Linked DNA regions of Homo sapiens. The protein of the gene in region 2 purifies or fractionates together with the protein of the main gene of each other region. This does not show direct contact. Each region holds a gene or a part of one and is shown on either strand. Other genes may lie near its edges.

The links.
Region 1: the proteins of USP37 (region 2) and KRT84 purify together in Homo sapiens (affinity purification with mass spectrometry; one large-scale study listed by BioGRID and IntAct). This does not show direct contact.

What each region holds. Positions count from the first base shown.
Region 1 is NC_000012.12:52,377,158-52,379,983, forward strand, and holds the end of KRT84 (keratin, type II cuticular Hb4), read right to left. Parts: intron 2,751-2,826; coding exon 2,719-2,750; intron 1,224-2,718; coding exon 877-1,223; 3' UTR 655-876; downstream 1-654.
Region 2 is NC_000002.12:218,477,699-218,481,353, forward strand, and holds part of USP37 (ubiquitin carboxyl-terminal hydrolase 37), read right to left. Parts: intron 2,018-3,655; coding exon 1,952-2,017; intron 1-1,951. UniProt on the Homo sapiens protein: Deubiquitinase that plays a role in different processes including cell cycle regulation, DNA replication or DNA damage response.

The DNA of each region.
Region 1 (2,826 bases), on a different chromosome or scaffold from region 2:
CAGCTAGGCAGGCTGTGATCTGGTGGAGTCTAGGAGGCAACTCCTCCAACCCCAGTGTGATCCAGAAGGAGAGGCCAGAGTCCCTGTGAGGTGAGCTTGGCAAGTTTATTGAAAACCCAGGAACACAAAGAGTAGTGCACACAGGCAGCCCACCCCACCCAACCCCCAGGCCTCCTTGGAGCTTGCAGACACAACCCTGCAGTGGACAGGGCTGGGCCTCACACCACGAGCAGGGGCAGGAGTACGGGGATCATTGCAAAGCCCGCCTGTCCGCCTGCACCCCACCTCGTGGACTTGCATGCTGGAGTTACACCAACAACCCAGGAAGAGAAACAGCCGGAGAGAAGCCACTGGGAGAAAAGCCATCTCGGGGTTTAGGGAGCCTGGGGCCACCAAGGACTGGGATCCCCTTCATCAGGGAGAGAAGGAAAGAACCTTCTCCTACCAGAGAAAGGAAGAAGAAGGAAGTGAAGGATGTGGAGTTAAGGATGCCTGCAGTGTGGACGGTCAACTCCATTCTCCAAATTAACCCAAAGCCACGGGTGGTGAGGGCACTGGGTGGATTGTTGTTATTGCACGGAATGTGCATTTCTCCAGGCTGTTGCTGACAGGGAGAGGAGTGATCCAAAGGACAGAAATTGGGAGGCAGGGAGAAGCCAGCTTAGCTGGAACTGCTAATGGAGCATCTACATGGCAGAAAAATCCTCCAAGAGGACATGGGGCCAGGCAGAATAATCGGGGGAGTGCTAAGGGGTGGCTTCCTGGCAGAAAGGGGAGCTGGAGACCGTCAAGCCCAGAGCCCACGAACCCTGGGGGCAGAAGCAGGAGCCGTGGAGCTGGTTCTTCTCTGGGCAGCAGCTGTCTGGGGCTGGGCTCTCAGTACTTGGTCCGGCAGGAGGTGGTGGTGGACACAAAGCGGACGCTGGAGCTGCGGCCGCCGCTGCAGCTGCTGAAGCCCCCCTGGGTGGGCAGGGGGCAGGGGACGCTGGGGACACAGGCCTCGCTGATGAGCATGGAGCCACTCCTTGTGCCAGTGCTCAGCAGGTCCCCAGTGGCCGGGGCGACCCGGGCTCCACCCAGGCTGGGGCCACAGGAAGCCAGGACCCCACTGGTGGCACAGACGCTGCTGCTACCTGAGAAGGTGACCCCGCCGCGGGAGAGGGTGGAGCCGGCAACCAAAGGCTCAGGCCCGCACACCAGGCCGCCCCGGGAGCTGCTGACGGCTGCGGAGAAAGAAAGCATCAGGGAGGCTGCCGACACCAGGGCCCTCCACCTCCATGCTACCCCTGGGCTGCACCTCCGGGTCTGGTGGGGAGGGAGTGGGGTCAGGGTTGTGGCATCTGGGGAAGTGGTCCCTATTGTCTATACAGTCAGTATACACTTTTTCCCTCTCTGGATGGCTCAAAGACTGTGACTACATTAAAATCAAACATTCAGATGAAAATGACGACTTCATCCAATTCCCCAGATGTTTGCATGCATCCATAGGTTGACTGTCATTTATATACGGCTAAAGTCAAGTTGGGTTGTGAGATGTAGGTAGTGAGCTGGATTATCCAGACAGCTGGAACAGCAGCTTCCACAAAGCCATGGGCCTTTTCTCTTCCAGTTGTATTATGCCCCTTGGTGGTCTCCATATTTCCCCTAGCCCAGCACACAGGAAACCCCTCCAACACTAGTCCCTTGTCGCCTCTCTCCTGACCCACTGGTGGCTGTGCTCTGTAGCCCTCTGCTCTCCCTTGGACACAACTCCATGCCTCAGGACTCAAATCCACAGAAGAGCTTGCTAGACCAGCCCCATCCATGGAGGGGTACACTCTTTCCTGCCCTTTCATCTTACCCAGAATCCTTCCTGCCATCCATGATGTTCACTCAAGCTTGACCTCCTGCAGAAAGCCATTGCCTGTGGCTTCCCCTGACCACTCACCGCCTCCATGGGAGTGGGAAGGGACACTGTCTTCCAAGTACATGTAGCTCTGACTGTCTGACCCACCCAGTTTAGCACTCGGTTCCACTACACGTCAGTGTTCATTTGTGTTTTTGGAGTCAGAAATCTGGGTTTGAAATCTGGTTCGCTTTGTAAGTTCTGGCAAATCATGTACTTTCTCTGAGTGGGCAAAACAGGGATGCCAGTATCCGCTTTTCTCCCCAGGGATCCTTCCAGTGTTAGGTTGATGGTGGCTAGGACTCATCTTCTCAAGAAGATTCTATTTCTAGAGAGCGTGGGCTGGGTCTTGCCTTGCCAGTGTCCCCAGACTGCCATGCCCGGCACACTGCCCTGCGTGCTTTGGGTACAACCCATGCTTCGGCTGCAGCAGTGGGGAGACTTCCATTTGGCCTTATTGCGTTCCCTGCCATCAGGGGATGAGAGGCTCCCCTGGCAGAGGCGTCCCATTCCTTCTAAGTCCCAGTCCTTCTAAGTCCTTCTAAGTTCCCTTGAAGGACAAGGCCGCTCAAAGCAAAAAAGCTGGCTGTCCTCCACTTTGGAGGCCTTGAAAACCTTTATGAATGTTTTGCTCTGGGGAAGGCAGGCTCTGGGGAGATCTCAGACCTCAGCTAAGAAGATGCTCCCCATCCAGGGCTGGATGGTCCCAGCTCCCCTGACTGTCGTGGCCAGACCGGCCATGTCGGACGCCTCCTGACCCCAGTGTGAGCCTGAGTTTAAAGGAAGTTTGAAGAGGAGAGAAATGTGTGAAGAGGAAAAAACAAGTTTCTTACATATGTTTACTGGTCCAACACCTTCACAGAGCCTGGAAAGGGGAAGAAACAAATCATTTCACATGCACTATTGTTTCCTGAAAACCTATTTGCCATAAAAAGGGCTTT
Region 2 (3,655 bases):
CAGTGCAATAATTGATACTTAAAATGCTGATTCTAAGTCATTAAGATATACTTAAATTATCCTTAGTTATTTTAAGAATGTAAGGAACAGTGTAACATATTTTAGAAACATTTTCATCCAAACTGTTAAAAATCTTTTAAAAGATAAATCGTTAAAAGGTAAGCTTCAGTTATATAAAAATTCACTTATGTGGAATCCTTTAATGATGCCAGATAAGTAAGGTGTTACTGTGTTGTCTTCTAGGTAAGCCGAAAATAAACTAAAGAAAAAAGTGGTAAAGGTCAAAGAACAAGAACTTTCTTTGATGGAGGTTAACACAAATTCATATGCAATACAAAAAATATATATAAAATGAAAACTAGAAAATACAATTAACCTGAATGTAAAAACTGAAAATAAACATATAGACTAATGGCACCAAGAAATAAGAGGCCAGAGTGGAAATCAGGAAGATTACATAGCAATGTAGATCAAAGAAAAGAGGCAAGTGGTCAGTGATAAGCCCAAACATAGTGTGTGGCTCAGAGCAGCCAGGATATCACTGCACTCCAACCTGAACACTTGAAAAGCCTCCCATGTGCTCAAAAGGGTTTTTAGTATAATAGCCAATTAGCCATCTTAATTCCTCAATTCAGATTTCACGCTCACCAAGCAAACCTGAACATATTAATTTGTTTACCCAGATAAATATTTTGCTGAAGGAGGATGACACCTGGCTACCATTGCACCAGGGTAAATTTGTGACAAAGGACATTGTAGAAGAATCAATGGTATTCTGGTTCATAACTCAGCCTCTTTTAAGTTTGATCGGCATGACAGGTCTTCTAGGGCCTAATCATTCTTTATTGATCAACTCCCAAATTTTCATACCAGCAGACCCTGGAGAACAGATGACCATGCCAAGGTACAATGATGCCCAATGAAATCATTTCTTTCTTGAAACTACAGTGACTTGGTACATAGAGTGCATTCCATTAATGATTACTATATTTACAGAAGGCAGCTTGCCTGTAGCAATGAAAAATATTCATCCTGTAAATGCATCACTTGCTCACTTTCTAAGCAGCCAAGTGGTATTGCTCATTTGTATCTTGAGAACGGGCAAGAGTATTCATATCGGTACCATTTCAGATTTCTAGTCATGTTAGTCATCTGGTTTTAATTGCACTGAAAAATAATTAACAGGAGGAAAAGAAAATAGCAGTTCCCAAATGTCATTTTATGGTTATATAAGCCCCCCAAAAGCCCTTAAACAACAAAAATGTCTCTTCTCTAAAAGTACTTTGGGCCATCAAATTTTTAGAAAAATTAATTAAAAAGTCAAACGACAACTAAATCAATTGAAATGATCTAATCAGGAACTCCTCTAGTAAAATCTTAGAGGAAATATATTTAAAAAGCAAACAAAAAAGGCATGTGCTTCCCTCCTTGGATAAAGTTTGGTCTTAAACAAAAAAATAGGGCATTTGTAGAATGCTTGCTTGTTTTCCTGTCCCCTTTCAAAACAACTCCTATTCGGTGTCAAAGACAAGAAGTTCCAGACTGGCTAACAACAGGTAAAAAATGTTTTGGGATTCCATGCCTATCTTTAAGGAAGAGTGCTTTAGACTAATAGGGGTTATTTTATCCCTTAAATCCCTAGACTCCCTTGTCCTCAGTTAATTTTTAGAGTTTTAGGATGAAAGTATTACATATTAACAATAATAAGTTTTTAAAAGTTTTAAGACAGAATATTGAGAGGATGAGCTAACCTTGTGTCACTGATTAAAATTTGTTATATCCTTCAATATATTCTAAACCAAATTCAGGAAAGTTTCAAAAGTATAGGTAATAAAGAGCATTATCATGCAAAAAGAAAAACAATAATGAAAAGGCAGGGAGGCAATCTTGGAGATTAGGGTAAGCCAAAACCTTAAACACAGATTTTGGGTACATAAGAAATATAACTCACTTTGAAGGTGTAGAAGGGCTGGTGATGCAGGAATTCACCATTTGAGAGGCTTTCAATGGTCTAGAACTATCAGAAAATTAGAAAATATATAATGTATACAAATGAATTATTAAAGATATATATTTAAATTATAAAATGAATTATTCTTACTATAATTCCTTTTATGTCCTCTTGAAAATTGAACAATTATAATACTTTTTAAATTACTAGCAATAGGCCAGGTGCAGTGGTTCACGCCTGTAATCCCAGCACTTTGGGAAGCTAAGTGGGCGAATCACCTGAGGTCAGGAGTTCAAGTCCAGCCTGGCCAACATGGTGAAACCCTGTCTCTACTAAAAATACAAAAATTAGCTGGGTTTGGCGGCGGGTGCTTGTAATCCCAGCTACTCGGGAGGCTGAGGCATGAGAATTGCTTGAACCTGGGAGGCGGAGGTTGTAGTAAGTGGTGATCGCACCACTGCACTCCAGCTTGGGCAACGGAGTGAGACTCCATCTCAAAAAAAAAAAAAATGGCCGGGCATGGTGGCTCATGAGGTCAGGAGATCGAGACCATCCTGGCTAACATAGTGAAAACCCGTTTCTACTAAAAAAATACAAAAAATCAGCCGGGCATGGTGGCAGGCGCCTGTAGTCCCAGCTACGCGGGAGGCTGACGCAGGAGAATGGCGTGAAGCCGGGAGGCGCAGCTTGCAGTAAGCGGAGATGCGCCACTGCACTCCAGCCTGGGCGACAGAGCGAGACTCCGTCTCAAAAAAAAAAAAAAAAAAAAAAAAAATACTAGCAATAGAGGCCAAAAGAGAAAATAAAATACCATCTCTAGGCTCTCCTTGATCCAATAATCTACATAGACAGCACTGGAAATGAAGTCAAGTGTAATACATATGAAAAAAATAACTTGGAGAAAATTACCTTGTCTCAGTTCTTTTAAAGTAATAGCTCTCATTTATGGAGGATTTACTGGATGTCAGACACTGTGCTAAGAACTCTACATATTATTACCTCATTTAATGTTCACAACCATCCTATTGTTTTTCTTATAGACAAGTCAAGGAATCTGTGCAAGGTCTAAAAGCTATCAAATTGTACAGTCAGATAGCTTGGCTTCAGGCCTGTGATCATACACTATTAGTGTGACATAGTACTACTGCCAGCAAGAGTAATAGCTCTACCAGCAGAAGGTAGTATGCACCAAGCAAAAACGTGAAAAGCTGTGAGAGGAAAAAACCAGAAACACTTAGACTCTCTGGGCACATGCCTTTATTAGTAGACCCTTGAGACACTAGTGTAAACTTCTATGAGACGTGGCTCTTTCAGACACTAACTGTATGACTTTAGGAAAATCATTTAATTTCCTTGGTCCTCTTAAGGGTTTGGACAAAAACCTCTAAAATCTCTTCCATCTTCAAAGTTCTACAATTTTATTATTCTACCAAACTAGTGTTCAAGTATAGAAAAGAATGACATAACATATGGCTTCAAAGTAATGCAAGTATGTAGAAAAAAGGGGAACACTCAAAGAAGTCCGAAGGTTTTCCCAGCATACATGATGAAGCAAAAACCTAAAGTAAAGATTACTTCTTTTTTTCTTGAGAAATTTCAGGAGCCATTTAAGTTCTTTACACTGCTGATAATATATGCATGAAGGCATAACATTGAGTATAGGGTTTCTCACATCTGCATGTCCTGAAGAGTCAACTGAAGCAT